Linked DNA regions of Homo sapiens: regions 2, 3 and 4 are each linked to region 1. Evidence: fine-mapped expression QTL. A gene starts in region 1. Each other region holds a variant in brackets. All regions are shown on one strand. Distances are from middle to middle.

Region 1 (7,817 bases):
AAAATCATTTGAACCCGGGAGGTGGAAGTTGCAGTGAGCCGAGATCAGACTGTTGCACTCCAGCCTGGGCAACAAGAGCGAAACTCCGTCTCCAAAAAAAAAAAAAGAAAGAAAAAATACTAAGATCATTCAGTCATATTCAAAAATGCATTCAATAGAATGCAATGTTATTTCTAAAATAAAGTATCAACTCTTGAAATTATAAGATTTTTTTCTTGTAATAGTCAAAAGCAATTTAATTAATTTTGTCCACTAATTTGAAAGAGCATCATGGCTTTTATGTTAGAAAATATATTTGTATTTTCCATATTGGTCAGTCACTCACTGAAAACCAAGAAAATTATGCATTTTCAATTTTAAATGTAAGATTTTGTGTCAAATAGATGGGGAGAGGGAGGCAAGTAGCTCTTGGTCTTATTTGTTTCCAGGTATACCCGAAGTTATGCAAATTATCTAAGACGTGATTACCCTATTCTGAAATACTTTAAAGTAAAATCCTATTCTCAATAACCTACTCCAATGTCTAGAAATTATATTCTTATTGTTCAACAATTAAATGAAGCTCTTATTTGAATTGATTCTCGTTTCCTTCCATTTTTCCTCTTTTGGCAGATACAGAGATTATTCAGATAGCATTTCTTTATAGCAAAGCTATGTATTTTTGTTAAATTAAAGTTATCCTTTCAGGTTAAATACCACAAAACCATAACCTTTCACATTCCTTTTTAATCTTTTGATGATTTTTACTGGAAGGATAATTTTAAAGATCATTTTATCTACTTTTTTTTATTGTGTAGCCTATAACAGAATGAATTAGAGAAAAGACAACACTGTGATTTTAGCCACAAGACTTCCTAGCTCCAGAAAGTTAGGCTTCTGCTGACATGTCAGTAAAATGGTAATTAAGAGAAAAACATTACACAACTCACCCATTTAGCTTACAGTTTTATTTGTCTTTACTTTGATCAAAAGATGAAGATGGGGCAGAGACAATCTGTACTCCTTTTTGTCTGCTCATCCCTCATCTGTATAGATTTTTTAAATGGGTACACTTTTTTTTTTTTGAGACAGAGTCTCGTTCTTGTTGCCCAGGCTGGACTGCAATGGTGCAATCTCAGCTCACTGCAACCTCCACCTCCCGGGTTCAAGCAATTCTCCTGCCTCAGCCTCCCAAGTAGCTGAGATTACAGGCATCTGCCACCACACTCGGCTAATTTTTTTGTATTTTTAGTAGAGATGGGGTTTCACCATGTTGGCCAGGCTGGTCTCAAACTCCTGACCTCAGGTGATCCGCCCGCCTCGGTCTCCCAAAGTGCTGGGATTACAGGCGTGAGCTACCACGCCCGGCCAATGGGCACACTTTCTTACACGTATTTCTCCTGACTCATCTTCATAAATGACAAACCCATTGTTTAACACCATGTAAAAGACAGGATAAGGTATGTTAAAAACATAGAAATACTACCATAGTTGGTGAAAGTCAACATAACCATTCCTATATTACAAAAGGAAAACAAACCTGACCCACAAAATAAACATACCTACAAACTTACAGCCATTCTTCATGATTTAAGGAATTACTAAAAGTTCTGCTTATTAGGCCGCATTCCAATGGACAAAACTACCTAGGTATGTTAAGTTTGCAGCAGAATATCCCAGTAAGTACTGCATTCAACTATCATAACCTTGCTCTAAACCAGAGCTTAATAGTTTCACGAGAATTTAAAATTTTAAGTAATGGTATTTTGCCTATAGCTGCATGATTGTGTTACCTTGCTATTCAGTAACTATTTTTCTGAATGATATCAGGAGGGTGATAAAAGGAAATAAATTATTATTAAAAAGTGTACAGGTCTGAGACATTAGAAAACTTTGATTTGTACTTTTGCTACTACCCACCACAACCACTTTCCTCTAAACCTTGTTTTCCTCCTTTTTAAAATAAAGGGCTGAATTACCTGTAAAATGTTTCTCACCTTTGAGAAGAATCATACAATTGAATGATTCTAAGTACCATAACAAATTTTATTAGGGATAAGGACCCCATTACATCTTTCTCTTCCTTGTTTCAAATGCCGCCAGAGCAACACACTATCCTAAACATCCAAGTAGGCCAATATAAGTCTATCAATACAAACCTATTCTCAGAATCCAACAGGCTAAAAGGGAATAAAAACAAGGACTGGCATATTTTTGTCATACATACTTCAGCACTTAATATCTCTACCTATACAACTTCATCCAGTCTGAGATAAAAGAGAATCTGGTCTTCTACAAATAGACATGTGTCAAATCCTTTAAAAGGTACTTCTCTATTTCAACAGAGACCAGGATTCAATAATTCCAATTTTCGGAAAACCAGACTTGCATCAAAATAAGTTCCATGTTTGTGGAAGAGAATAAATAGTAAGTGGTACTTTTAGATGAATCACTTGGTCTCCTCTTAGAACTAAGTTTAAAATCAGCCTTTAAAGCTGTTTTCCCTCTGCTGATAAAGATTTCCCTCTCCAAATAAAGATTTTTCTAGATTCTATTTCAGGAAGGAGACAAGAGAGTGGTAAAACAGCTAATAACTAGTAAAGCTAACTCTCAGTTGGTTGTCAGTATGGTATGTTTTACTGAGCCTTTGGGTTGTAAGGGCTTCTGTGAGGAATAAGGTCCTGCAACGCCGCCTGTCTGTGGACCCAGGAAAAATTATAAAGTTATTATGAAACCAGATCACTAGGACAAACCGAGAGGCCTTCCTATTCCAACTCACCACAACCAGGCCTGGCTCCAAAGCCTACCCTTTGGCTGTCCCATATTACGGGACAACAGGTCCTAGCTTAATTCTAACTCACTAAGGAAACATTCGAAGGCATGTATGTATGTACGTGTAAGGATCAAATATATTTTTCATCCACTTACAAATGTATATGGTCATTTGTAATTATTTAAAGTTACTGATAAATTTATACAAATACAGCATCAGTTCATCGAAAATCCCTGGGAGATCGAGGAAATGAAGTTACTTCAGCAGCCAGGATAGTTACGAAAAACCCTGCAGAACAGTATGGAAAAGTACAGCTTCTCACGTGTCCCTCACATACACAAACACTTAGCTCTGAGTCCATTACAACCTTACGTCCCCCCTCAAACTGCTCCCCTCCACCTCACAACTGGGAGAAGTTGATCAACCTCCTAGTTGGTCCCCAAGAGACTCATTTACCCATTATTTTACTCCTCCCGCTTTGATCCCGATCCCGCCTCAGACTAAGGTGGCCCTACTGGCCCCAGGCAGACCACCCCCCCACCCCCCGGCGTGCAAACAGGGAATCTAACCAATTCCCTCCATCCTTAACCAAGTGAGCCATCCCATGATAACAGGCTGTTCACCAACTCTGTGAACTCCGTGGTCCTCCCACCCCCACGTGTCAGCTACCCTCCCCCACATTCCCACACCTCACGATTTAGGCCGAGGGAAGAAAGGGGGCAGTCGAAAGCCTGGCCCCTAAGAGATCAACCCACTGGAATCTGTCCCACTCCAAATCCCCTCCCACCTTCGGCCCCTATCCCTTACAGTCCCTTCCTCCCTCCTTCCTTTGAAACCAGGCCCTTGCCTCAGAAACCTCCTCTTCCTCGTCGTCGTCGTCCTCTTCTTCCTCGCTGTTGTTACTGCTGGTGCCGCCGCCGCCACCTCCGCCTCCACCGCCGCCTCCACCGCCGCCGCTGTTGTCGCTGTCGCTGCTGCTTTCGCTGCTGCTGGGGGGTCGGCAAGTCCGGTTACGCTTGGCCTTGTGGTGCTGCTGCTGCGGCGGCTTCTTCTTCAGGAGCAGGTCGCAGACTCGCACCATCCCACGAGGAGACGAGGCCGAGCGAGCTCTGCTGCTGCCGCCAACGCCGCCGCCGACCTCCGCCGCCGCGGGGGGGCCCGCCACAGCCGCCACCGCCGGGGGGCTCCCTTCTCCTTCTGCAGCCGTCGCCGCCGCCACCGGAACCGTCGCCTTCTCCATCCCCAGGGAAAGAGGGAGGGCGCGGACGGGGGAGGGGCGTGGGGCTACGCTCTACCGCGACTTCGGCCGCACTGGGGCCGACACAGCAATCGGTGCCGCCTCCGCCGCCACCGCCTCGGTCACCTCTACTGCCGCCGCCGCCGCCGCCGCTCCGCCAGCTCTCACCTCGTCTCGCGATACTAAGGGCGGGGAGCCTGACGATGGGAGGGAGGGAGGGAGGGAGAGGGAGGGAGCAAGGGAAGGAGGGTGAGGCGTAACAGGGAGACCGGGTGTCGGGAGAACCAGAGGAGAGGAGACTGGAAAGAAGCGGGGAAGTGTGCCTGGGGCAGCTTCCGAAGGGGAACGGCGGGGACAGATGAGGGGGGCGCGATTGCAACCAGAGCGCCCGCGAGCTCCCGGATTTCTTCTCTTTCCTCGCTATTTCCCGCACACACAGCCCTGCAGCCCTCCCTTCTTCCTTCCTGGCTTGTGATTAGAACGCAGCCGCAGGCGGAAGTGCAGTGACGCCATCAGCCGTCGCCTGAGCCGTGGCGCGCGGGTGGCCGAAAGGCGAAAGTGAGATTTCAAGGGCCGGGTCTGGGGCCCCGCGGGCGCGCAGTGCTGCGGCGTGTGGGGAGTACGGGGAGGCTGGAGAGGAGCCGGCCCCGGGCAGTGTGAGGTGCGGAAGCGCGGTCCAGACACTTTGCTGACGGGAGGCCGGTCCGCCAGATCCGGGAGGTGGGGCCTCGTTCTGGACTGCTGTACGTAGTTTTATTCCTGGTCATTTTTTTCCACCGCCAAATCGAGAGATAGAGCTTTGGATCATGAGAGATGGCGTCGTGTTGGGAAAAGAGCCTTCTTTACCTGAGTTTAAGCTCGGCTCATAGACATCCTCTACCTGAGTTTACACGTGTGTAATATGAAGGCAGTCGATTAGGAGATGTCTAAGATCATTACTTACACCTCAAGTTTCCAAGGGGAGGAAGACACGGGAAGGATGCGTGGTCTGTGCCAGACTTTGTAGACGATTCACTGAATGACCCTGATTTAGCTCTTCCGGCCCTCTTCGATTCAGCTTGGAAGCAAGCATAAATAGTGATTGTTGTCTGTATACTTCTCTCGGAAGGAATGCTGTTATGGGAGTTGTGGGTTCATTTTTAGGTGTCTGAAGAAGTTTCAGGACTTTTGAAATGATAGTGGAGCCCATTGAACTCAGAATTATCCCTTTCTGGTCTAGTAGGAGTATAGTGGCATACGGAAAATGAAGCAAACATCAAAGACAGATGTACTGGCACAAGATTAAAAGTATGTCTCAGCTGACATAGTTGCCATTTTAAGACTGCTTAGTTTAGCTGAATATGCCTGGATTTTTTTTTTTTTTAGCATTTTTTTTCTTTTTAGCATTGGCATACCATATGAAATGTGGGCAGTTGCCAGTACTCTACAGAGTACCAAGGCAGAATTGGCAATGACTAAATCAATTCATTCAAACAAAAATTCATCATGTGCCTACTGTGCGCATAATTTGTGGAATCAAAGTCTCTTGTTTCCAGGGGCTTTACAGTGTAATAAGTGCTATAGTAAATATATATACGGAGTGGTAACCATCTGCCTATTCCTCTCCTACAGTCGTTGCTGAGTTCCAGTGTAGAACAGAGCACTGCATTGTGTATCTCACCACTACTGATTTAGATTTTATAATTTCAGCTGCATCCCTCCCTCCTACTTTGTATATTCTTCAGCATCTTTTTCTCCCTTTCCACTTGAATACTTTTCGCAATCTTTAAATCCCAGCCCATTTTATTATATGACTTTTAACTTAGACTTCACAATTTTCCAAGTGCTAGAAATTTCCTGAGATTGCCTTTTCTCCAGTATCAACGAATGAGAGACTCCCTGTTCATATATGAGATAAACTCTTCATACATATTCTAGTTCCAATACCCCTCTTTCTCATGCATTTATTATCTTTTCTGTTGTCAACCTTCTACAAATTCTGGTTCCTTAGCTAATTCTTCTGTAGCTTTCAATTATTTCCTTCACAAGCAAACTTTCTTTCTTTAAAAAGTATTCTATACTCAGGAGGCTGAAGCAGGAGAATCGCTTGAACCTGCGAGGCGGAGTTTGCAGTGAGCTGAGATCCTGCTACTGCACTCTAGCTTGGGCGACAGAGCGAGACTCCATCTCAAAAAAAAAGTGTCTACAATCAGTGTCTTTTTTGTTTTCTGAAATTGACTTGTCAGCCCTCTGCAGTCTAGTCTCTGTGTCTATCGTGCTGTGCTACCAAAAATGCTCTCTTTAAAGTAATCTCATTGTTTGGAAGAAAATGAGTTTTTTGTTCTTTAATATAATAGTGAAATGATGATCCTGTTTCACTAGTAGGATAAGGTTCAAAACTATTAAAATGGACAAGGCATGTAAAGTCACTTTCTTTTATTTTTATCTTTTTTTCCCCCCGTTAGAACCTCTGGCAGGGACTGACTAGCCCATGAAACTTATTTCTTCTTCCCGGGCACACAGCTAAACTAAATTTCACAGCTTTCCTTGTAGTTGGTTATAGTCATGTGATGAACTTCTTTTTTTGAGACAGAGTTTAGCTCTTGTTGCTCAGGCTGGAATGCAATGGCACAATCTCAGCTCACCGCAACCTCCGCCTCCCGTGTTCAAGCGATTCTCCTGCCTCAGCCTCCCAAGTAGCTGGGATTACAGGCATGTGCCATCACACCCGGCTAATTTTGTATTTTTAGTAGAGACACGGTTTCTCCATGTTGGTCAGGCTGGTCTCGAACTCCCGACCTCAGGTGATTCCCCCACCTCGGCTTTCAAAGTGCTGGGATTACGGGCGTGAGCCACCGAGCCTGGCCGTGATTAACTTCTAGCCAATTAAATATGAATGGAAATGATGTGCTCATTTTTAGGGTTAATGAAGTCCTCCTATTCTCCCTTACTCTTTCTTCGTCAACTTGATGCCTTTGAGCATGGTGACCTTCAAAACTATGTATTGGAGATGCCAAAGCCAGAAAAGAGAAGAATGAGTGGCTGAAACAGTACTTGGAAGACAGCCACCCCAATTAGAAACACCCCTTTTTGCACTTACTGTAAGAGAAAAAATTGAGATTTGAGAATTTATATGTATAGGAGCTAGAATGACCATAGCTAGTCCAGAAATTGGTACAAGAAGTGGAGTACTGCTAAAACAATAACCTAAAATATGTTACATCAGCTTATTTATGATGCAGCAGGTGGTAGAGAATGTGATTTGGAGGCTAGAAAAAGGAGGCCCATGTTTGCAGTGGCAAAGTAATTAGTAAAACTGTCACCTGAAATAATTCAAAATCAGATCACCTATCTGTTTAGATTAGCTCCAGAGGAAATGATTGAAAAGAGCAAAAGTAATACTGTGTTGAATTTTACATTTTACTTTTAGTAAGGTTTTACTAAAGAGAGAAACTCAGGAAATACTTCACAGAAGTGAGAGTGTACAGGAATATTTCTCAGGAAGGGTTGGAAAAGTTGACTTTTATAAGACTTCTAATAAAAAAAAAAAAAAAACTAGAAGAGGTCTTGAGTATAGTTACCCTTGAGATTAAGTCCTGCAACAAAGATCAGGAAAAGGGTTTGGTCTTTCCATTCAAAGTCATTATTTTAGATGGCTTCAAGATAGCTACGATAAAGGTCTAAAGGAACTGGCATAGGAGCAAGGCAGCAAAGCAGTAAATTAGGCTTGATAATTATGTAAGAAAGAACTTTGGGTGTAGTTACCAGAAGCAAATCAATCAGAAGACTACATTTTTAGAGGAATTTTATTAATCATACTAAATCTGGCTCAAATATCATTGTTCGGGT
Region 2 (7,817 bases), 270 kb after region 1:
CTGAAAATTATTAGTAGTTTGATAAAGATTCTGATGAATTCCTCAAGGCTAAATGCAGTGCTGAATTTTCCTTTGTCATCTTCTTTGATCTTCTCAGTGAGAAATTATCTCATCTTCTTCCAAAGCCCATTAGAATGTTGCCTATTTTAAAAGTTGAGTTCTTCATATCATAAATTAAATATTATGTCTAAAGAGTTTCTGGCATATGCTACATACTCAATGATTGCAGGTATTTTCATTAAACCTATTTATATATATTTCTTACCTCCTTCTCCTTTCTTTTCCTGGTGAACTGCAATTCCTTTAGAAGCCAATTCTGAATTTCTAGGCAGAACAGTCATAGTTTTCTTTCGGTTTCAAACTAATTTAAACCCCAAAAACCAGTATTCATGCACAGACTTATTATATTCCATTACCTAGCATTTCTAAAGAATGACTTTTTTTTTTTTTTTTTTTTTACAGAGGTGAGCTTTTTAGATAACTTACACTATTTTAAGTTACAAGGTTTTCATAATCTTAATTTTTTTCAGTGGAAATTTTTTGCTAAATGTGTAATATGCACCTATAATGCTAAGCATAAGCAGATGCTCATAAGCTAGGGATTCCTTTTTCTTCCTCATTTTGTGATGTTTATAGCCTTGCTGCTGCCAGGGTGTCTGTACCTAGTGGCGTTTGCTCCTTTCTCAGAGAAAATTACATAATAGATTGCATAAACATTCTATCTATGATCAGATAATGTGATCTATGAGGGAAAGCCTCAGAGAATCTCTTATGAAGAAGTGAATACATTTGCTTGTTTTTGATTTTGAATGAGTATGATACAACAAAATAATAATAAATTATAAAATATAATTAAATTTTATTTAATAATATTCATTAAATAAAAATATTATTATCATGCCAGTTTTATGGTTTGAATATCACCTTTGCATGCATTTTCTAACTTGTTTTTGAAAACCTCACTGTAAGGTACAGTTACTCATAGTAAAAACAATATGTGATCAATATAATGTTTTTAATAAAAATATGGAGTTGTTCTAAACTTTCGTTTATTTATTTATTTCTTTTTGAGACAGAGTCTGGCTCTATCGTCCAGGCTGGAGTGCAGTGACATGATCTTGGCTCACTGCAACCTCTGCCTCCCTGGTTCAAGTGATTCTCCTGCCTCAGCCTCCTGAGTAGTTGGGATTACAGGCATGCACCACAATGCCCAGGTATTTTTGTTTTTTTTTTTTTTTTTTTGTATTTTTAGCACAGACAGGGTTTCACCAAGTTGGCCAGACTGGTCTGGAACTCCTGACCTCAAGTAATCCACCTGCCTCGACCTCCCAAAGTGCTGGGATTACAGGCTTGAGCCACCGTACCAGGCCCTGAAATTTTAAAATATGACTTATATCCTTACCACAAAGAGATACCAATTTTGGTATATTTTCTTGTCTTATTTTTTTCTAGTCACAGATTTTATTTTATACATGATATGATCACACTGAATATACAATTTTGATTAGAGATTTAGACATACCTACTTTGTACTAGAAGTATATATCTTCTCAAGAATAATGAACATTATTTATTTAACTGTCACCCTTCCCTTCTGTTGAACCATTTTATTTATTTCCAAAATTTTGCAACCCTAACAAAACATGCCTGTACTTCTTTTTCCATAATTATGTTTTTATTTATTTAGAAACATTTCTTGGTAAGAGAGTTGGCAGTAATCCTAAGTTAAAGATATGAATATTTGAGGGGATGAGGGAGTTCACTAATATATATTACAAAACTGGAACATACACTTAAGATTAGGAGTATGAGTATGAGTATGAGATATGTTCCAAATAACACGGTTAGTAACTTGGATGAAAGCAAAATACAACTCTAAGACATTATTGAAATTTGTTCTGGTGGCTCTCTGAACTTTTGATTGCTTACTTTCTTGTGCTCACTTATGTTCTAAATGCTTGAGATTCCGGAACAAGTGATCTTTGGGAAAGAAAGATTTTATAAAACACACCATGCTATACTTCTGCATTTTGGCCTCTTTTAAACAACTCAGTAGAAGACTTTTTAATTTCGAAGAGAAACACAATTTTTATCTTTGTTTCCTTCTTTATTAATAATGAGATTAACTTTTTCTGTTACTGCAAGACTTCTTTAATAAACTGTTTTTTTCTAATCACAGCTAGAATGCAACAAAAATATATTAGAGAATTATCTTTGAGATATCATAATTTATGTGAAATTATTTTGAAAAGTGCTTGTTCATATCTTTTGCCCACTTTTTGATGGGGTTGTTTGTTTGTTTTTTCTTATATATTTGTTTAAGTTTCTTACAGATGCTGTAATTAAATTTACTTATGAAGTAGAAAAAGCAGTGTAAGTTATATCTAGATTTGTAGACTTTGTTGCTGTTGTTAATCACCCCTTTTGATTAAACCTGTTTGAAAAATCATTTATCTCTCATTTTACAAAGTCTGTTAATGGAAACCTGGCTCCTTTCTCTCCACTTATGTTACTTGCCTGTTCTAATAGGGCACATAGTGCCGTAGATGTAGATGAAAAGGCATAATCCTCAACTGCCCTTGTCATCTCCTACTTCAACTTATTCCATCCATTCAAATCCTTTAGTCTCTTTCTCAGAGAACAAAAGATTTTGGATGTTCAGATTCAGGCACTTACTGAATTTTTCTGCATTGTAAAGGCTGGAGGAGAAAAGGTATTTTTTTCTCTTGGAAGCTAGGAACAATTTTGCTCCAACATCACGTGAAACTGAAAAAGTGGGGCTGGGGGTGGAAGAGATTGTTGCCCAGTGTGCTTCTTCCCTGGCCCAGACTGTGTTTCTATACAAGTGGACCTCTGAGGACATACATTTACCTAACATCACTTTCTCCAACTTAGGACAACACTGGGCTTCCTGGAAGCTCAGTTCTCCTTACAGGGCAGGCCCAGACTCCCTATTTCCAGAGAAATTTCAGGGATGTTGCTCAATTGTCAACAGAAGCAAGGGAAACCCAAGCATCTTATACTTTTTGTCTTTATGATAATAGATTTAGCTAGGAAAGTGAGGATGGATAAATTTTGAAGGCTGGTCAACCTTATATTTCATTGCTTATCTAAGCAACTTCTTTTGTTTTTAAATTTAACTTTCATTTTAAGTTCAGGGATACATGTGCATCTAGTTACTTAATTGCTGCACACACTCAGCCTTATCAGCCTTAACCTGATGCCATAATGTAGCTTCAACGTATCACTCTTAGATTTAGATCTTCATCCAATTCTTCTTTCCTGAACCCTTAGTTTATATCCATGACTGCTTAGAGATGTGTAGATGCTACACGGAAGTCTTAAATATCCTTGAGCTCTATATTCACACAGCAAACTATTTGGATTTGCTTTTTAGCCACGCTCCTCAAACCTGTTCTTTTTTCCTGAATATCAATTTTAATAAATTGTGCTACCATCAACCCAGTCTCCTATATTATTCTAGATTATTTTTCTTCACTCTACTTTGTTTCTAAACTAATTGTTGTTTATTAAAATTATCAGTTCTACCTTTCAGAAGTGCTTAAGTCTATCTGGACATTGATTTGGTTCAAACCTCACCATTTTAAAGGTAATTTTTCTCAATAGCCTCTAAATACCTTGTATGTCATTTCCCAAATGTCATGTTTTTATACCTCTAAGACTCTTTATATATAAAGATGAATAGTTCTAAATGCTCTTCTTTTTCTTCAGCTGTTTCAAGCTAACTTCTATTTGTCCTTTAAGATTCAAATTGTTCAAGATCTTCATGGTGACCTCCATCCAGTCTGGAGCCAGTCCCTCTTCTTTCTTCTAAACCATTATATGTGTACTTTTCTTACAACTTCTATTTATAATGTATTATAATTGGTATTGTTTGTTTCACTCTTGGT[ATTGT/A]TTAATTGTTTCACTCTCCAAGTGTGAGTTTCTAAATGTAGAGACTAGCTTATTCACACCCATACACAATTATTTGTGTATATATGTTTATTAGTACATACGGAAGTGTAGTAGTAATAATATACAACGTGTATAGTAAATTAACAAATAGTGATGTGGTTCAGAGATGAAATACTTCCCAAACTGTGATCTTAAAATAAGAACAACAATAGAAAAACAATAAAACTCTCCATTTGTACTTTGTTGGGCTAAACACGGGAACAATAATACAGTCTGTCTCCTCTTATGTTCTTTAAGAGATGTTTGAAAATCTTGTGACACTTGAGTATGGTCAAGCAGAGAAGCTTTCTTTGTTAGAGTGAGTCACTATAAATGATCTCTTTGTTCTCTCAGTTTGCCAGGGATAAAGCAATATAAGTTACCAACTTTTTCTCTGTTTTTCTGTTAAGAACAATAAAAAATAATCTCAGAATGAAATCTTCAAAAATAACTTCTCCTTTTTATGTTTTATAGAGCCAGCTTATAAACTACCCCTGCTCTAAACAGGCTATCCTATCCAGCAAGGTCACTCAATCCTGTGAACAGCCAGTGCCATTCCAAGGGGAAGGCATATTAACTCAGAAAATGCTGACACACCTGACCTTTCATCCCTGCCACTCAGCAGTTCTACAGAAGACCAATTTGTATGCAAACAATTCACTTACAAGCCAGAATTCCTACAAGCATAATACAGTTTTTCTGTAAACTCTTAGTGATAGAATATGTATTTATGAATTCCTTGGGAAGGGTTGCAAACTCGAATGACCACAAGGGCCAGCCAGGGATGGAGTGGGAACTGTGGGCAGGAGGAGATGCTTTGTAGAGTCCAGAGGTGGCAGTGACTGTTCAGCACCAGAAACATTGCCATATGGGAACTCAGACTTCAGGTAGTTGGGTCTCCTGCATTTTGAGAGAAGCTAGAAATGTCTTGGTATTTAAATGTTCACAACTAACATAGGAATTTAAAAAAAAAAGATGAAGTCAAGTGTATGCAGGTTTTGTTTTAAGGGACTTAGAAATAAGCAAGAGCTTTAGATTCATATACTTTGTCAGCTCTTCTGTTTTAATTAACTTAATATCTACTGCCAGACCCTTGGTAAAACATTTAAAGATTAGAGAGTTGGGGTATTAACATCTCTGGTGTGCATTCAGAAGTGTATATTAACTAGGCAAACTGATTTCAATATACACTAATACATTATTGCTGTGGAAATTGTCTGGAAATGGAAATATTTCCAAAGTCCCTTTAGGGAGTGTTATTTAGAGCTAAACAGAACAACAGAATCTCAGTTTTCCTCAAAGTTCTTTGTAGAATAATCTTAGTTATATTTCCAAAATTATATTTGATACTGGTTAATAAAGGTAAATGCTGCCATCTGAACTCACTTATTATAAATGTCTAAACTTGCATTTGGTAGTAAAATGTTGACAGGCACAACTTCCTAGTGGAAAGCACATTGGACTGTGAGTTGGGAAATGTGAGTTCCAGTCCTAGTTTTGAGTGCATAGCTGTGGAATGGAGGTCAAGTCATTTGATTTACCCAGGCTTTTGTGTTACAACTGTAAATTAAGGTGGTTGGAAGATAACTTCAAAGATCCCTTCTATAATTCTGTTCCTTTGAAAATATTCTAGAGTTCGAATTTCTCTTTCTTGTGACATAGAAGAATGTTTAGATTATGTATGGATGGTTCACTTAAAAGTTTATTTGGGACAGGCAGCCAGCACTTTTTTTGAAAAAATGGTCATACTTACTAATATAAAATTTAGTCTTAAAGATTATTAGGAAAAGTGTATTCTCACCAAACACTTGAAATTATTTTTAGTAAAAGTAAATAGAGTCTCTGAGCCAGAAACTACCCGTTGTTAATCAGGATGTTTCGGGCTCAAGTTCTAAATCTGCCACTCATTACTGTGTGACTTTAGAAAGATCATGTAATTGGCCAGATACAGTGGCTTATGCCTGTAATCCCAGCACTTTGGGAGGTTGAGGCAGAAGGACTGTTTGAGGCCAGGAGTTCAAAAGCAACCTGAGCAACGTAGTGACATCCTGTCTCTACAAGAAATTAAAAAATTAACTGGGTGTGGTAGCCCATGCCTGTAGTCCCAGCTACTTGGGAGGCTGAGACGGGAGAACCTCTTAAGCCCAGGAGGTAAAGATTGCAGTGAGGGGTGATCGCACCACTACATTCCAGCCTAGGCAACATTGTGAGACCCTGTCTCAAAAACAAACAAACAAAAAAAATCATGTATTGATTTGATTTTCTTATCTTAAAATGTAGGCAATAAAACCTCTCTTCTAGCTTTCCAGGTTTCCAAATGCTTTAAGGTCAGTTAAAATTTAATAGTCATAATTGGCTTTTGTGGAAAACTTCATGACCTCAGACTTTTATTGTTTACCTTTTAATGTGTTTCATATGATACAGGTTTCCTTATGAATATTCAAAAAGATATCCAAAGTTGGCAGTTCCAGTGATTTTAAGAGTGGATATAGTATATAAAAATGGATTGAGAAAGTGCTACAAATTAGAAAACCCTTTGGAATGCTATAGCTGTGGGACAATTTTCTTAAAAATAAAAAAAAAGCAAAAACCCCCTTTCTCACAAATGATTATAAAAATAGGCAATATTCTAGTGCTATTAGTAGTTCCATGCTTTCGTAAATGATTGTGCATGTTTTTGCTAACTGCAAACACTAGACAAGAAATAAAATTTCCGTCTAAACCACAGGCCACATCACCATACTATAGCAACTCTATGGATGAGTCACTGACTTATGGATTCTGTGTTTCATGAAGCTTCTGCAATCTCTTCTTTACAGTGAATGTAGCTGTTTGCTTGGCATAGTAGCAGATAGCAAGACAGCACAGACTATTAGAGTGGAGGGGAGAAATGGAAGAATGAAGGGCAAAAACATCTCTTGTCCTGAGTGGGCTCAAGCAGGTATGCCTAGCATCTTTCTTTCCCATAAAGAAGGATAAGTGAGAGTGATTTAGCCTCCTGCAGGTAAGCACTGTCTGATGGCATCACTGTTAGGCCTCCACAAGAGTCATTATGATAATAACACCTTACAGGAGAATGACTTTTTTTTTTTTTTTTTGAGATGGAGTCTCGCTCTGTCACCCAGGCTGGAGTACAGTGGCGCAATCTCGGCTCACTGCAAGCTCTGCCTCCTGGGTTCATGCCATTCTCCTGCCTCAGCCTCCAGAGTAGCTGAGTCTACAGGTGCCTGCCACCACTCCCGGATAATTTTTTTGTATTTTTAGTAGAGATGGGGTTTCACCGCGTTAGCCAGGATGGTCTCCATCTCCTGACCTCGTGATCCGCCCGCCTCGGCCTCCCAAAGTGCTGGGATTGAGAATGGACATTTAGAGTTTACAAAGCAGCTTTACAACCAGTGTCCTATTTGATTACAACAGCCTGAGTCACTAAGTACATTTTATAGATGGTAGAGTATTGAGTTTCAAGAGGTTCAAGTGACTTGCCTGATGTCACACAGTCAGTAAGGACAGGGCTAAGTGTGAAATTCAGGCCAACTGTTTGCAAAAACAATAACAATTTTCCCTATAACAGCCACTGCTCGTTAGGATAAGGTGGACTAGGTCTGACTAATTAAGCTGATAACCAGCGCTCTTGCTAAACAACTAAGCCTACAAGGTTATTGGTACCTTCCCACTGGAATCTTATATTCATGGTTCAAGAACTCTGAATTTGTCTTTCTCTCGAGAATCCATTTAATTCACTTCAATTTATATTCATGGAGTATTTTACTAAATACTAATATTTTACTAAATAAAAAGTATATGCTTTTATTAAATCATGGCTTCTTAATATGTATCTATTACTATTACTATTACTAAATACT
Region 3 (7,817 bases), 170 kb before region 1:
GAGAGTCCCTGGATGGGCCTATATTCCTTTTCATGAAAAGAACCTAACTAAAATAATTTTCACATCTCTAATTATTATAATTACTTCAATTAGAAAAAAAGCAAAATTTAATTCAGAGCCATGTTATTTAAAAACATCAGCTTATATATTAGAGAAACAGGTTTCAGAGGATGGGGCAGATCTAGGTTTTGTGGGGCCTTAAACTTACAAAATTTTGGGAACCTTTTTTAGAAGAATGAAAAATTACAAATAAAAAAATCATGTACAGCACTTGGAAGTACCCCATAAAATGAAGTGGCCTAAGGATTTAAGTTTCACTGATACCACGGTAACTTCACCACAGTTTAGAAATGATAACAGAGTCCTGAGTTAAAATTGAAAGAGCAATGTGATTTACAAATTCAAAAAGTGGGGCCACTGGGTGTGGTGGCTCACACCTGCAATCCCAACACTTTGGGAGGCCCAGGTGGGCAGATCACTTGAGGCCAGGAGTTTGAGATCAGGCTGGGCAACGTGGTAAAACCTCATCTCTACAAAAAAAAATTTAACAAATTAGCCAAGCATGGTGGTGCACACCTGTAGTCCCAGCTACTTGAGAAGCTGAGGCAGGAAGATTGCTTGAGCCCAGAAGGTGGAGGTTACAGTGAGCCAAGATTGTGCCACTACATTCCAGCCTGGGCAACAGAGAGATACATTATCTTTTTATTTAAAAAAAAAAAAAAAAAAAGGGGGGCCAAGCGTGGTGGCTCACATCTGTAATCTCAGCATCTCTGCATTTTGGGAGGCTAAAGTGGGAGGATCTCTGGAGATCAGGAGTTCAAGTCCAGTCTGGGCAACATGGTAAGACCTCATCTTACAAAAAATAAATACATAAAAATAAAATAAAAACATTAGCTGGGTGCTATGGCAAGTGCCTGTAGTCCCAGCTACTTGGGAGGCTGAGGCAAGAGGACTGCTTGAGCCTAGGAGTTTGATTGAGGCTGCAGTAAGCTATGGTCACACACTGCTGCATTCCAGCCTGGGTGACAGAGACAGAACTCGTGAGAAGAAAAGGAGAGGAGAGAGGAGAGAACAAAAAGTGCTTCTACAGTAAAATTACATGAAAAGAAAGGAGAAGAACAAAAAGTGCTCCTACAGTAAAATTACACTGCACATTTCTCACAGTTTAGTTCAGTGTTTATTAAACATACCCTGAATTTAATCAGGAAGAAATAGTAGGAAATAAAAATAAAAGGCATTCTAGCAAACAACTGGCTTGTAGTCTTCATAAAATGAATCTTTCTTTGAAAGTTAAAGAAAGACTCAGAGAACAGTTCTAGATTATTTGAGACTAAAGAGATATGGGAATTAAGTGTAACTTGCAGTCCTAATTAGAATCTTGGATGAGAGAAAATAATAAAGTTATTGAGATAACTGATGAAATGTAAATATGCACCATATATTAGATAATAATATAAAATGTAAAGTTTGCTGAATTTAAACACTGCATCATAGTTGTTGAAGGGAACATTCTTATATTTAGGAAACTAAGTTATTTAGGGGCAAAAGGGCTTGACGTCTACAACTAACTGTAAAATAGTTCAGGAATAAAATAATTTTACACACACACAGAGGAATATATGATGAGGAAAGGAAGTAATGCAGTTTAATTGGTGAATCTGGGAAAAATATACAAGGGATCCTTGTGGTATTCTTGAAAGTTTAAAATTATTAATTACAAAATCTGAGAGACATAATCAAATGCAATATGTGAGCCTTGAGTGGTAGTTCCTGGTTCAAGAAAGAAACATCTATAAAAAACGTTTTGGAATAATTGAAGATATCTGAATATGGACTGATTAATTCTTACTGAATTCATGTTAACCTATTAGGTATTTGACAATGGTATCATGGTTGCATAAGAAAATATCCTTATTCTTAAGTGATGCATGTTTTTAGGTCTGAAGTGTCATATCTGCACCTTATTTACAAATGGTTCAGCAAAACAGTAGAGAGAGAAAATAAATATAACAAAATAATTGGGAAATTTAGGCGAAGGAAATATGGATATTCCTTGAACTATTCTTTAACTTTTCTATGGGTCTGAAATTTTTTGTAACAAAATAGTTACTGGAATGTGGCAACAATAAAAGCAATTGTAATGCCCTCAATGATACTCTGTATTTACAATATAGCACTATATTCAAAAGCATGTATTAAAAAACCTAACCTGGGTGGTGTGGTGGTACACGCCTGTAATTCCAGCACTTTGGGAGCTGTGCAAGGATAATTAATATTCTATATGACTGCCACTATTTGACAAACACAAGAAAAACTATGAATATATAAATTCATTGCAGGCTACAATTTACCTCATGCTTTAACTGGCAATGTACTCTGACATGTATCTCTAAAATAATTATAACTCTTTACTCTTTCATTAAGTTAATTAGGTTAACTGTTATTTATTCCAGTATTGCTAGTTAGAAGAAATTTGATAGTTAAAAAAAAAAACAAAACAAAAAAAAAAAAACCGAAGTCTTACTATAACTTCCTTAAGGGATAAGCAATTTCACATCTTTACCTGGAAAACAAACATATCCAACCTTACTACAGAATTCTCTTAGTTGAGTTGAATTCTCTATTGCTGACTGATCTTCATTAGTTTGAAAATCTAGGCCTGGTGGCTCACACCTGTAATCCCAGCAGTTTGGGAAGCCGAGGTGGGCAGATCATGAGATCAGGAGTTTGAGACCAGCCTGGCCAATGTAGTGAAACTGTCTCTACTAAAAATACAAAAATTAGCCAGGTGTGGTAGCACATGCCTGTAGTCCCATTTATTCAGGAGGCTGAGGTGGGAGAATCGCTTGAGCCATTGCACTACAGCCTGGGTGACAGAGTGAGACTCCATTTCAAATAAAAAAAAGAAAGAAAGAAAATCTAATCACTGCTTCAAAAGTCTGCCTGTAGTTAAAAAACACATGTGATAATGTGAAATCTGTTGTGTTGTTAATGCAGATGAGATTTTTTTTTTTTTTTGAGATGAAGTCTTGCTCTGTTGCCCAGGCTGGAGTGCAGTGGTGTGATCTCGGCTCACTGCAACCTCCGCCTCCTGGGTTCAAGCAATTCTCCTGCCTCAGCCTCCCAAGTAGCTGG[G/A]ATCACAGGTGCACACCACAACGCCTGGCTAATTTTTGTATTTTTAGTAGAGGCAGGGTTTTGCCATGTTGGCCGAGCTGGTCTTGAACTCCTGACCTCAGGTGATCCACCCGCCTTGGCCTACCAAAGTGCTAGGATTACAGGTGTATGCCACTGTGCCCAGCCTAGATGAGATTTAAAGGTGGACTAAAAGGATGTAATTTTCACTCAAGGGTAGAAATCTTTCTCCTTGGTACCTGTATTCTCAAAACTAAAAGTAAACATAAATTAATAACAGGTACAAGGATTAATTTTTTTCCCCCAAAAAATGATCCCTCAGGACAGGTGTGGTGGCTCACACCTGTAATCCCAGCTCTTTGGAAGGCAGGAAGACTGCTTCAGCCCAGGAGTTTGACGAAACCAGCGAGGGCAACACAGTGAGAGCCTGTCTCTAATAAAAATAAAAAATAATAAAAATCCCTCTTAGAAAAACTTCAATATTTTAGGTTTGATAGAACCTAGGTTGATTCTAATCATTTAAATACCTAGAAATTTTTTTGAAATTCCAGACTTCTAAGAGTACAAATTACCTTTTTATGGTATTAAAATTATGATGAGGTTTGAAACCTGCTGTTTTTAAGAAAACATATGCAGATTCTTATGGAATTACGGTGTATAAAACTCACCATTTGATGCTGATGAACACGGAGTCAACAAACTAAGCGGGGAAAAATGTTGTCTGTTAAAGTTAGCAGCTGCGGGTGCTCCTCCAAGGGGTGCCCCAGGTCCGTACATCTGACCTCCTGAAATGTTTGAAGCAAAGTTTCCCAAATGTGTTGAAGAAGGTGTTACAGAACCATATGGCGAGTCCATATTGACAATACCTATAATGTAGAAGGTCATCATAATTTATAATAGTTACTCCTGCAAGAAATAGAGATACCTTAAAATTCTAAAAGGCCCTAAATATATTCAAAACTATTTTAGATAATTAAAAAAATCCCGGCTGGGAGTGGTGGCCCACATCTGTAATCCCAGCACTTTGGGAGGCCAAGGTGGGAGGACTGCTTATGGCCAGGCATTCAAGACTGGTCTGGGCAACACATCGAGACCCCACCTCAAAAAAAAAAAAAAAAAGTTCCTGGCTGGGTGTGGTGGTTCATGCCTATAATCCCAGGCATGAATCTCACTTTGGGGGGCCAAAGTGAGAGGACTGCTTGAACCCAGAGTTCAAGGCCAGGATAGACTGCCTCTACAAAAAATTAAAAAAAAAAAAAAATTAGCCAAGTTTGGTGGTGCGTGTTTGTAGTTCCAGTTACTTGGGAGGCTGAGGTGGGAGGATTGCTTGAGCCCAGGAGGTTAAGGCTGCAATGAGCTGTGATGGCACCACTGCATGCCAGCCTGAGTGACAGAGTGAGACCCTGTCTCACACACACAAAAAACTAAACTATGTAGATAATTATAAAAGAAACAATTATCACATTATACTCTTAAATTCAAATTATAATTTACTGGGAACAAATTTAATTCTTGATTTTAGTACTTTCAGCACTAGTGGGCATTAATGTTTTAGTTAAAAAGGATCATTAGTTTTCCTTTACATGGGCTTTCTGTCAAAGTGGACTTTTGTTGCCTTTATTGATCATAAAATTAATGCAAACTTATTTAAAAAATCCAAAACCAAAAACCATATATAAAACAGAAAGTGAAACTTCCAGATGTTCCTATTTCAAAAACGAATGTATGTGTATTTGTGAGAGAGAAAAAGAAGAGGAAGAATAAACGTTTACCTTTAGGGATTTTTAGATAACATTTTTTTTTAAATGTTTATTTTTAGGGATAAAGATAAAACATTTACTCTTCCTCTTCTTTTTCTCTCTTACAGGTACACATTTGTTTTTGAAATATGTTCATTAAAAAAGTATTACAAATGTTTACACACTAAACTATTACACAAGTAACCTATCTGATTTTAGTCTAACGGGTTAAAAATACAGAAAAAAAAGAAAGAAAATAATTGTCAACGATTTTTTTTTTTAATTTAGGAGACAGCTTTCTCTGTTGCTCAGGGTGGAATGCAGTGGCATGTGATCATAGCTCACGGTAGCCACAAACTCTTGGGCTCAAGCAACCCTCTTGCCTCAGCCTCCTGAGTATCTGGGGCTACAGGTGTTCACCATTACACCTAGCTATATTTTTGTTTTACCTTTTATTAGCTTTTATAGAACACATGTCAATATTGGATTTTATGCTTGAACCTGGGAGGCGGAGGTTGCAGTGAGCCTAGATTGTGCCACTGCACTCCAGCCTGGGCGTCCGAGTGAGACTCCATCTCAAAAAAAAAAAAAAAAAAAAAAATATATATATATATATATATATATATATATATATCTGTAGGATTTTAAATAGGTTTAAGGACCAAAGAGTTGTATAAAACTACAGGGCAAAAAAGGGCTGTAGATACAATTCTACAATGAAGAGATCTGATAATTACATACTAACCACACGGCCATGCTTTCCACAGCCAATACTGGAACAATTTATCATTTTTTCTTTTTTTTTAAGGAGACAGGAGATTGCTCTGTTGCTCATAGCTCACCCCAGCCTCCATCTACTGGGCTCAAGTGATCCTCCTGCCTCAGCCTCCCAAGTAGGTGGGATTACAGGTACATGCCACCACACCCAGCTTTTTTATTTATTTTTGTAGAGGCAAGGTCTCACAATGTTGCCCAGGCAGGTCTTAAATTTCTGGCCTCAAATGAGCCTCTTGTCTCAGTCTCCCAAAGTGTTGGGATTACAAGTGTGAGCCACCACATCCAGCCAATCTGTCATTGATAAAATGCAGTGTGAGGTTCAAAACATCACCTATATGATGCTCCTTCCTGAAATATTTGATCTGAATCTAATCATGGATTGACATAATCACTGAATTAAACTTGCCCACAGAGTCAATGTCAAGAATTACAGAGGAAGGCAGTAGAATACTTTAGACAGAGGGAGACCAAAGACACATAACAACCAAAAGTAATGTGTGAATCTTGATTGAGTCTTGGATCAAATGGCAAGGAAAAGAGACACACATAGTCAGAAAGAATATATTTGGGAAAATGGCATTTTATGTTGGGTGTTATTATCAAATTCATCCTCATTTTATTGGGTGCAGTAATAGTGGCATAGCTGTGAAGGCAAACATTGTGAAGATCCATATCAAAGTATTTAGGGGTAAAGTATCATGTTTGAAAGTTATCTTCTCATGATTTGACAAAAGATGGGGAAGAAAAGAAAATAGAGATAGGATAGAAAGGGGGAAAAGGAGGAAAGAAGGATGAAGAAGGGGAGAGACAGGTAAGACAAGACAAGAGAGGGGGAAGAAAAGGAAGCAGCAAAAGAGAGGAAAAAAAAGGAGGGAAGAAGGAAAAGGGGAGAGAGGAAGGGAGGGGAGTGAGGGAGAGAGTTTGAAAAGATGTTAACAAGCAGAGAATATATTAATAAATGTGGAAATACCAAGTATTTACTATGCTGCTTATTCTGTCCTTAGATCTTTATGTGACTTAAATAACTTTTCAAAATACAAACTATAAAAACAGATCTGAGTCTAAAATACAAATAATCAAATTATTTACATAAGAAAAGTTAAACAAAGGAAGAAAAATATGGAACACAAAATGAATTAGGAAGAAGTAGAGAGAAGTGAAAATTAGGATCTGAGAGAGGTTTAGGAGAAAATAAAAGGACATACTTCCTATGTAATAAAAGGAGTATCTTTAACTCAAAATGACCTGAATTAGGTAATTGACTTGTAAGTTAAACTTCAATGCTAATTTTGGCTCTCATCAACTATACACTCCCTAAAAACCTCACCTTTCTTACAGAGGTCTTTCTTCTATACCTTTTCAAAAAATAGGAATTTATTTTTTTGTTCTCTAAAGCTTAATTTTAGCCTTTCTGAATCCCACACCTAGATTATCACATTTTTGGAAAGGTAAAGTATTAAATTCCAACTACTATAAAAATCAAACTTAAAGCATTTCCTACGCACTGGCACATAATGATCTAAAATCTAATTATATTGATTCTATTGTTTTAATATAAAATAAATTATTTTTCATAGTACACATAAATATTTCAGTTGACTTTTAGCAAAGAATATTTACTGACCACCTTCATTAAATTTTATTTACATGTTACAGAAATAGGTAAAAATAACATTGAGTTCCCATTAAACTTGGAAATTTTTGTCCCGGAATGTCATATTTCCAATAACACAGATAACGAGTTGGCAACCAAGAGCCAAATACCAAATATTTTAGGCTTTGCAGGTCACATGGTCTCTGTCCCAGCTACTCAATTCTGTCATTGTAGCATAAAAGTAGCCTTATACAATATGCAAATGAATGGGCATTGCTGTGTTTCAGTAAAGCTTTCTCTACAAACACTGAAATTAAAATTTCATATTTTGTGTTGCATGTTTATTCTTTTTAAATTTTTTTTTTTTTTTTTGAGACAGGGTCTCCACCCAGGCTGGAATGCAGAGGTGTGATCTCAGCTCACTGTAACATCTGCCTCTAGGGCTCAAGTCATCCTTCCACCTCAGCCCCCCAAGTAGCTGGGACTACAGGTATGCACCACCATGCCCAGCTAATTTTTATATTTTTGTAGAGATGGGGTCTCCCCTTAAGCCCAGGCTGGTCTGGAACTCCTGG
Region 4 (7,817 bases), 520 kb after region 1:
TATATAATATTGAGCAGTAAGGCTTGACACTCCGGATAGATGTAAAATAAATTGTAAAACATTTCTATTGAGATTCAGTGGAATTCAAAGTGTCATCTAAACAGTCTAACATTCATCTTAACACAGTGAAAATTTCATTCATCTGCAGTAGGTATTTAGAATATATAAGTATTTGGAATATACAGGTATCTAAAATATGACCGCTACTCATCAGTTAAAGAATCCCAGACTCCAATAGAAAAATGGACAAGAATATGAATAGGCAATTCACAGAAACTTAATAGATACTTAGTTTCATTAGTTATCAAAAAAAATCAAACTTAAACCACTATGAGATAGCATTGCATATCCATCAGATGGTCAACAACTGGTAAATCTGGTAACACTGAATTTTGGTGAGGATATGGGAAAATGGAAATTCAGACATGGCTGGGGTAAATATAAATGCACATAACTTTGGAAATTGGCAATATCTAGTGAAAGCTGAAGATATGCAGAACTTACCCCAGCATTATCCCTTCTGCGTCTGCACTAGAGAAATCTTCAACCATGTACATAAGAAATTGCTATAAGGATGCTTGTGAAGCAGTGTTGGTAATAGCAAAAACTATTGAACCTCAGGAGTAAAATTCATAAACAGTGCAATGATAGAGTTAAAATGAAACTACTCAATCTAACTGGTTAAACAAGGGTAAACCTTTAAACATACTTCTGAGTAAAAAAGAATACAAAATGCTACATCCAGTACAATGTCATTCACGTAGATGTTAAGCACTAAATACTATATAGAGAAACATGAATCTATGGTAAAAGTTCAGAACACTAAAGAGAATGATACTATCATCACAGGATTTGAATAGTGAAGAGAGAAAACTGGCGAATGGGACTTTAGAGTCTATGTATTTTTTAATTAAAAAAGATTGGAATCAATTATAATCAAATATTAATAGAGCTAATCTCAGAGGTGGGTAGATAGGTAATGGTTATATGCACATATATTTTACTTTTTTGAATAAAATGCTTTATAATTGAGGTCTAAAAGGGTAATATGTGTGGAATTTTTTTTTTGGCAGGGGAAAATAAGGGGATTTAAATCATTTCTTCATCAAAAATCCCTTTGAACTTTTATTTGCCAAACTTCCTTCTTCCTTGTTATGAAGATTAGTAACTCCAAACCATATTCACTTCTGCGGTTTCATTCTGAAAAAAGAAAATTTGGCTGGTTTAGATAAAGCATTCCATTAACCTACATTCTGAACTAGATGTTCTAAAAGGAAGTTATTATTTTCTCTGGCAGAGATGAAGGGAAAAGCCAAAACATTTTGATGTTGACACAGCTTTTGGAGAAGTGCCAAAAAGGTCACTGAGTCTGTGATCCTTCATGGTGTCCGCAATGTGGGCCTTGCAATGATCCCAGTCCTGCTTACCACAGGGTGCAGGTGTCTTTGGAGCTGAGTAGAAACATTCTGAAAACATGCATGTTGCTGTCCCTGGATAAATGCTTAATACTTAATGCACTGCTTTTCCTTGGTCTCAAAATTGTTCTTAAACTTACTTTGTGTGGCTATCTCAATGTTTATAAGCCAAAGAAAGCCAGCTACCTATTGCTTACTGATGGTACACTGCATGTTAATTTATTATTTTTGGCTTACCTAATACATTTATATTTTATAAAATGGATATTTTTTGAAGGTATAATTGTGTCAAAGTGTGCACTTTTGGGTGGAGAAGCAAAAGCTTTGTCTCCATATATAAAGATGATGGATCCTATCTTACATACTTATCTTCAATACCTTTACTGTCACTGAATAAATGTTCCTTAGCACTTACCATGGCAGTTTTATTAAACACAAAAATGTATGATCTTTTTCAGAGGTTAAAAAAAGTATAATCTGTATTATTTGAAACATTAGTAAACCAAAGAAATGCTTACTGAAAATTATGGTTCAATGCCTAAAATGTCTATTTAATTTGTTTTACATAAAGCCTCCAGAAGGTGGATACAGTTGATTTTAAGTTAATTAATCTCATAAATCATTGTAAAATAAACAAAAGATTATAAATACAGTAATTTTGATAATCTGCTTTAAGTTACTAGAGAAATATTAAAAGCATGCACTTTTGCTTTTTGATATACTTAATTTGAAGTAAATAATGCATGTTGAGCCAAAACAAATACAACTTTACCTCTGAATCGTATTTTAAGATTAAGGGGAAAAAGCCATAAAATAATTAACATATTTTCATTTCTCTATATTTTAAATTGATAAAATTTTATTTCAATAATGATGAAAAGTCACTAAGTACATTTTAGTCTTTTTTTAAATTTAATACTTATAAACTGTATCATGTACTTTGAAAACAGGTGAAAATCACTTAAAATTATTTTATTTAAATTGTATTTTCCAGAAGAGTAGGTTGTGGGTTAGTCGTCTTTGCAATTTGTCATGCAATTTGCTGGGATGTCAGCTTCAGCTGGGCTCGTTGTCATCTTGGCCTGAAAAACAGCAAATGATGAAGCAAAGTGTGAGAAATTGTCTCATATTTTATGGCTCACTGAGTGAATGAATCAACTCAGGATGCTGCAGCATTGCCTGCAGGAGTCTGTGTCTGTGAAACTGCTGAAATTCCAAACGGAGTAGCTGATGGACTCTGGGCAGTATTCATGGTCCAAAAGGGTGTTGGCTTTCCTCCCCAGATTTAAGAACTGTAATTTTGAAATGAAGATGACATGTCATTTTCCATTTGTGACAAATCCTAGGAGCTGCTATACTGGTATTCTATCTGAATAAGGATATAAAAAAGATCCAAGTATACCTTCTACAAAGTAAAAACATATCCTTTTGAAGTGTCATGTTTGATGAGTTTTGATAAAGATATCAACTCATGTAGCCACTGCCACAACCAAGATATAGAATATTTACATTATGCTCCCAAAGTTCCCTCTTGCCCATTTTTAGTCGGTCACTCTGCCCCCTACCAGTCCCAGATAACCACTGATCCAATTTTATCACTATAGAATTTTATAGAAATAGAATAATGCACTAGGCACTCTCATTGTCTGACTTTCACTCAGCATAATATTTGTGAAATTTATTCATGTTTTTGCAGGAGCTCATTCCTTTTAGTCTCTGAGTAGTATTTCATACTATGGGGTTATACCACAATCTTTCCTACTTTCATTGTCCTTAGTTTTTTATTTTGTTACTGAAGTTGCTATGAATATTTATGTCCAATACTTTTTTGGACATATATGCTTTTATTTATCTTGGATTAAATACCTAGAATTGATATTACTGGGTCATGAACCTGTATAGATAATTTTAAAAGAAACTGACAAAGTGAGTTAAGAAATTGAGAAGGAAACTAAAGTTTTTTTGAAACACATGAAAATGGAAATGCAATTTATCAAAACCTATGGAATACATTTAAAAAGTACTAAACTTAGTGAAATTAGCACTTTTTTTTTTTTTTTTTTTGAGACAGAATCTCTCTCTGTCGCCCAGGCTGGAGTGCAATGGCTCAATCTCGGCTCACTACAACCTTTGCCTTCTGGGTTCAAGGGATTCTCACGTCTCAGCCTCCCAAGTAATTGGGATTACAGGCACCTGCCACCACGCCCAACTAATTTGATTTTTTTTTTTTTTTTTTTTTGTATTTAGTAGAGACAGGGTTTCACCATGTTGGTCAGGCTGGTCTCTAACTCCTGACCTCAGGTGACCCACCCACCTCACCCTCCCAAAATGGTGGGATTACAGGTGTGAACCACTGTGCCCAGCCAAATTAGCACATTTTATATACTGTGTTGAAATTCACAGGAAAGCTTGTCTTCTGTAAATGACTTTTGAATACAGATTTGTTCAGACATCTCTAACATTACACATACTGTACTGGTCCACTGGATTGAAGGCAGAGAGAAGGAAGGGAGGAGAGAATGGTTCAAGGCCAAAATGGTCATATTTAGAAGATACCTCAGATTATAACCATTATTATATATGTGCAATTTTAACATAGCAGAAAAGTTATATGAAATTTCCAGTCTTTCTACATATTTAGAAGTGCTTGATGCATTTAAACGTAGAAGTAGTAGAATAACACTTCTTATAAATAGCTATTAAAAACTGATGGGAGGCCGGGCATGGTGGCTCATGCCTGTAATCCCAGCACTTTGGGAGGCCAAGGTGGGCGGATCACCTGAGGTCAGGCGGTTGAGAGTTTGAGACCAGCCTGATCAACATGGAGAAACCCTGTCTCTACTAAAAATACAAAATTAGCCCAGTGTGGTAGCGCATGCCTGTAATCCCAGCTACTCGGGAGGCTTAGGCAAGAGAATCTCTTGAACCCGGGAAGTGGAGGTTGCAGTGAGCCAAGATCGCGTCATTATACTCCAGCCTAGGCAACAAGAGTGAAATTCCAT[C/CAA]AAAAAAAAAAAAAAAAACCAAAAAACTGACGAGAAATACTGTGCTTGGAAGTAGAATTGTTAATCCACCTCTGAACAGTGAACAGTGTACTTTCTATACTTGTTCATTGGGTTGAGGGAGATGGGAGGGAAGAAATTGCAAAAGGCATTTTGCTAGTGTGTACTAGAAAATGTCAGCTTATCCATTGTCCTTTATACCCAAATGCCCTTGACAGTGCATTTTATTTAACTTAACTATACTGTATATACTGTATATATTGGACAAATGAATCCTAATTTTATAATATCTAGTCACTAGATATTAGAGATTGTCAATGTATGACAAAAGGAGAGTTAGTAAACTAACACATTTTGTACATTTTATGTTAAGATGTATACAAAGATTGTATTTTGAAAAAGACTTCAGGAAGTGAAATGATAGCATCAGCTTTGACACATGTGCCCATATTTACCAGGTTGTTCGTAGAGAGGAGTTGAAAGAAATAAAGGATTCTAGACCAGAACGTTCCTATTTAGAAAACACTTTCAGATATAACAGTTGTTACATGTGTGTAGTTTATTCAACAATACTGTGTATATAGTAAACAAACTTAAGTCTTTATTTGAAACAGCTAGTCTTTCTAGATATTTAGAAGTACATAAATATGTTAAAAGTAGAGGTAGTAAATTTCCACATTTTATAGATAGCCTTTTGATATAAAATATTGTCCCTTGGAAAGTGATCAAACCACTCCTCTGAGCAGTACACATTATTTGTGCTGGTACAGGGAGGAAGGAGGAGAAGAAAGTGCAAAGGCCTTTACACCAGTGTGTTTATGGTGAGGCACAATTGACCACTGTTCCTTGTATCTACATTTTCTTTTACTTTGCTGTGTATATAGTATATATAAATGGGCAAACGTATCCTAATTTACAACATCTAGTCTTTCTAAATGTTAAAGAGTTTGACAGTGTATGACAAAAGCAGAGGTTAGTAAACTAATAAATTGAGAACATTTTGTTTTAAAATTCATAAGAAAGACTATTCTTAAAAACACTTAAAGAAGTGAAATTGTTAAATCTTGTCTAAGCATTACAAATGCTTATACCTGTCAACTGTGTTGATAGAGGTAGGAAGGGGAAGGGTTCTAGGCCAGAATGTTCTTATTTAGAAGACACTTTCAAATATAACCTGTGTTATGTGCACCACTTATTTAATGCTACTGTGTCTATGGTGGAAAACTTAAGTCCTATTTGAAATATCTAGTCTTTTCACATGCTTAAAATTGCACAACATAGTTTAAAACTAGAGGGCTAAAGTAACACCCTGAGGTAGTTTTTTGGTTAATTCCTAGGAGTGGTTGTGCTTGGGAATGCAATTGTTAAGCTTGATGTTTGGAGAGTATGCTGACTGTTTATTGGGTGGCAGCAAGTCAGGGGAGGAGAAAGTATGCATGCAGAAGTGTTCCGTGCCTGTAAGTTTGATTAGGTCGGATGTTCTAACCATTGTTGTATATGTGCCTTTTAGTTAGTACTGTTATGTATTAAAGGATAAATAAGTCCTAATCCCCAAAGTATGTTAAAAGTAGAGGTAGTAAAACAGTTCCTACATAAATGTCTTCTCACTGGTTTTTGGGAAGGCCTGTCTTCTGGGAGTGACTTTTGTTAATCCAACTCTTGGAACTAGATGTAGTCCTATATTTAGTCACTGGGATAGTGGAAAAGGGAAAAGAGGAAAAGTGAAGGGAAGGGCTGTTTGTTAGTATCTCTACATACAGAAGAGGGTTTTAGATGATGTATTAGTCGGTTCTCATGCTGCTAATAAAACCATACCGACGACTGTGTAATTTATAAAGGAAAGAGGTTTAATTGACTCACAGTTCAGCATGGCTGGGAATGCTTCAGGAAATTTACAATCATGGTGGAAGGTGAAGGGGAAGCAAGGCACTTACTTCACAGGGCAGCAGCAAGAAGTTTAAGGAGGGGGAATGCCAGACAATTATAAAACCATCAGATCTTGTGAGACTCATTCATTATCAGGAGAACAGCATGGGGGAAACAGCTCCCATGATTCAATTACCCCCACCTGGTCCTGCACTTGACATGTGGAGATTATGGGGATTACAATTCAAGGTAAGATTTTGGTGGGGCACAGAGCCAAACCATATCAGATAATAACCGTAGATCTATATGAGCATTGTTAGTAAAGCACCTAAGTGTATTGTGAACAAATTTAATTATTTTGCAACATCTAAGCTTTATAAATGTCTTGGGGTAACAATGTATGATAAAAAAGTAGAGCTAGTGAATTAACCAATTTGTAAATTTTTTTTGTTATAATTGATAGAAAAGATACGTGTTGGACATAGAATTATTAAACTGCCTCTGAGTAGTGTGTGTAAGGATTTGTTCATTAGGTTGGCATCAGAAGGGCAGAAGCAAATACAAAGGGAAAGATGTATGCAGATGTTTTCATATTTACATTTTGACAATAGCCATTGAGGTATGTGCATCTCTTGTGGTTGTACCATAGGAATACATTAATTAATTCAGTGGAAACATACATTCTTATTAATATTTTAATGGTATAGATCTGCTAATGAATTCTCTTAGAAACATACTTAGTATATTCTGTTGCATTATGTTTCATTTTAAATTGAGCATTAAGAGAATACAGTATTTTAATTTGAACTCTTTCAACGCTTTTATCTATAAGCATGTTGTCATTTTTGTCTTCTATGAAATTTTTACCCCAAGAAAGGCAGAATTATGTTTTTGTTTTCTTTTTTCCGACAGATTAAGTTGGTGTGATGTATTTTATTTTTGTTTGTTTGAGTTGGAGTCTCGCTCTGTCGCCCAGGCTGAAGCGCAGTGGCACAATCTCGGCTCACTGCGGCCTCTGCCTCCTGGATTCAAGCAATTCTCCTGCCTCAGTCTCCCAAGTAGCTGGGATTACAGGTGCCCAAAACCACACCAGGCTAATTTTGTATATTTAGGAGAGACGGGGTTTCTCCATGTTTACCAGGCTGCTCTCAAACTCCTGAGCTCAGGTGATCTGCCCAGCCTCCCAAAGTGCTGGGATTACAGGCGTGAGCCACTGAGCCTGGCAATGGTGTGGTGTATTCTTGATTATCAAAATACTCCTATAGCTTTGGGACTTTTTATTGGTAAATATTCATGATATTCATTGTAAGTATTTAGTATATATCGTGAAAAACCATGATACATACCGTACAATCTCAATCCCATAAAATCGGATGTTGTGTCTATACACACACAGGACCCAGAAGGACATATCAAGCTGTAAACTGCTTGTGATTGTGGATGGCTTTGTTCTTTGCTTCTTGTGTTTTTTAGTTTCCTATTATGCACATGTTAACTTTTAAAAAATAAAGATTATTTTTAAAGCCTGGGGAAAAAA

Alleles and levels. Positions count from the first base shown, and alleles are read on the strand shown. Sizes are in standard deviations (SD) of each study's normalised expression. Not every link is listed here.
For the expression in non-classical monocytes of the gene that starts at base 4,490 in region 1, C is the low allele of the variant in region 4 and CAA is the other (large effect, 1.8 SD a copy in Schmiedel 2018).

Evidence for each region. PIP is the estimated chance that this variant, and not a neighbour inherited with it, causes the effect.
Region 2: its variant is the best candidate, but not a certain one, in a credible set for the expression of ANKRD17-DT in whole blood (TOPMed, PIP 0.59).
Region 3: its variant is the best candidate, but not a certain one, in a credible set for the expression of ANKRD17-DT in whole blood (TOPMed, PIP 0.54).
Region 4: its variant is the best candidate, but not a certain one, in a credible set for the expression of ANKRD17-DT in non-classical monocytes (Schmiedel 2018, PIP 0.77).

The regions. Positions count from the first base shown.
Region 1 is chr4:73,254,677-73,262,493 of GRCh38, forward strand. ANKRD17-DT (ANKRD17 divergent transcript) reads left to right here and starts at 4,490. Exons shown (of 5, transcript NR_187399.1): 1 at 4,490-4,732. ANKRD17 (ankyrin repeat domain 17) reads right to left here and starts at 4,122. Exons shown (of 34, transcript NM_032217.5): 1 at 3,600-4,122. The coding sequence starts at 3,992. RefSeq lists enhancers at 1,274-1,774, 4,175-4,771, 4,374-4,643 and a silencer at 3,814-4,213.
Region 2 is chr4:73,529,464-73,537,280 of GRCh38, forward strand. It overlaps LOC107986287 (a long non-coding RNA gene), which reads left to right and starts at 1,403. Exons shown (of 2, transcript XR_001741722.2): 1 at 1,403-3,610; 2 at 4,429-7,817. RefSeq lists an enhancer at 6,817-6,866. The variant ATTGT/A (reference allele first, on the strand shown) is at 3,912.
Region 3 is chr4:73,081,449-73,089,265 of GRCh38, forward strand. ANKRD17 (ankyrin repeat domain 17) reads right to left here. Exons shown (of 34, transcript NM_032217.5): 30 at 3,801-3,998. Among named protein-coding and RNA genes, the nearest start is that of COX18, 16 kb to the left of the region's middle. The variant G/A (reference allele first, on the strand shown) is at 3,136.
Region 4 is chr4:73,775,234-73,783,050 of GRCh38, forward strand. No RefSeq gene overlaps it. Among named protein-coding and RNA genes, the nearest start is that of CXCL8, 39 kb to the left of the region's middle. The variant C/CAA (reference allele first, on the strand shown) is at 4,418.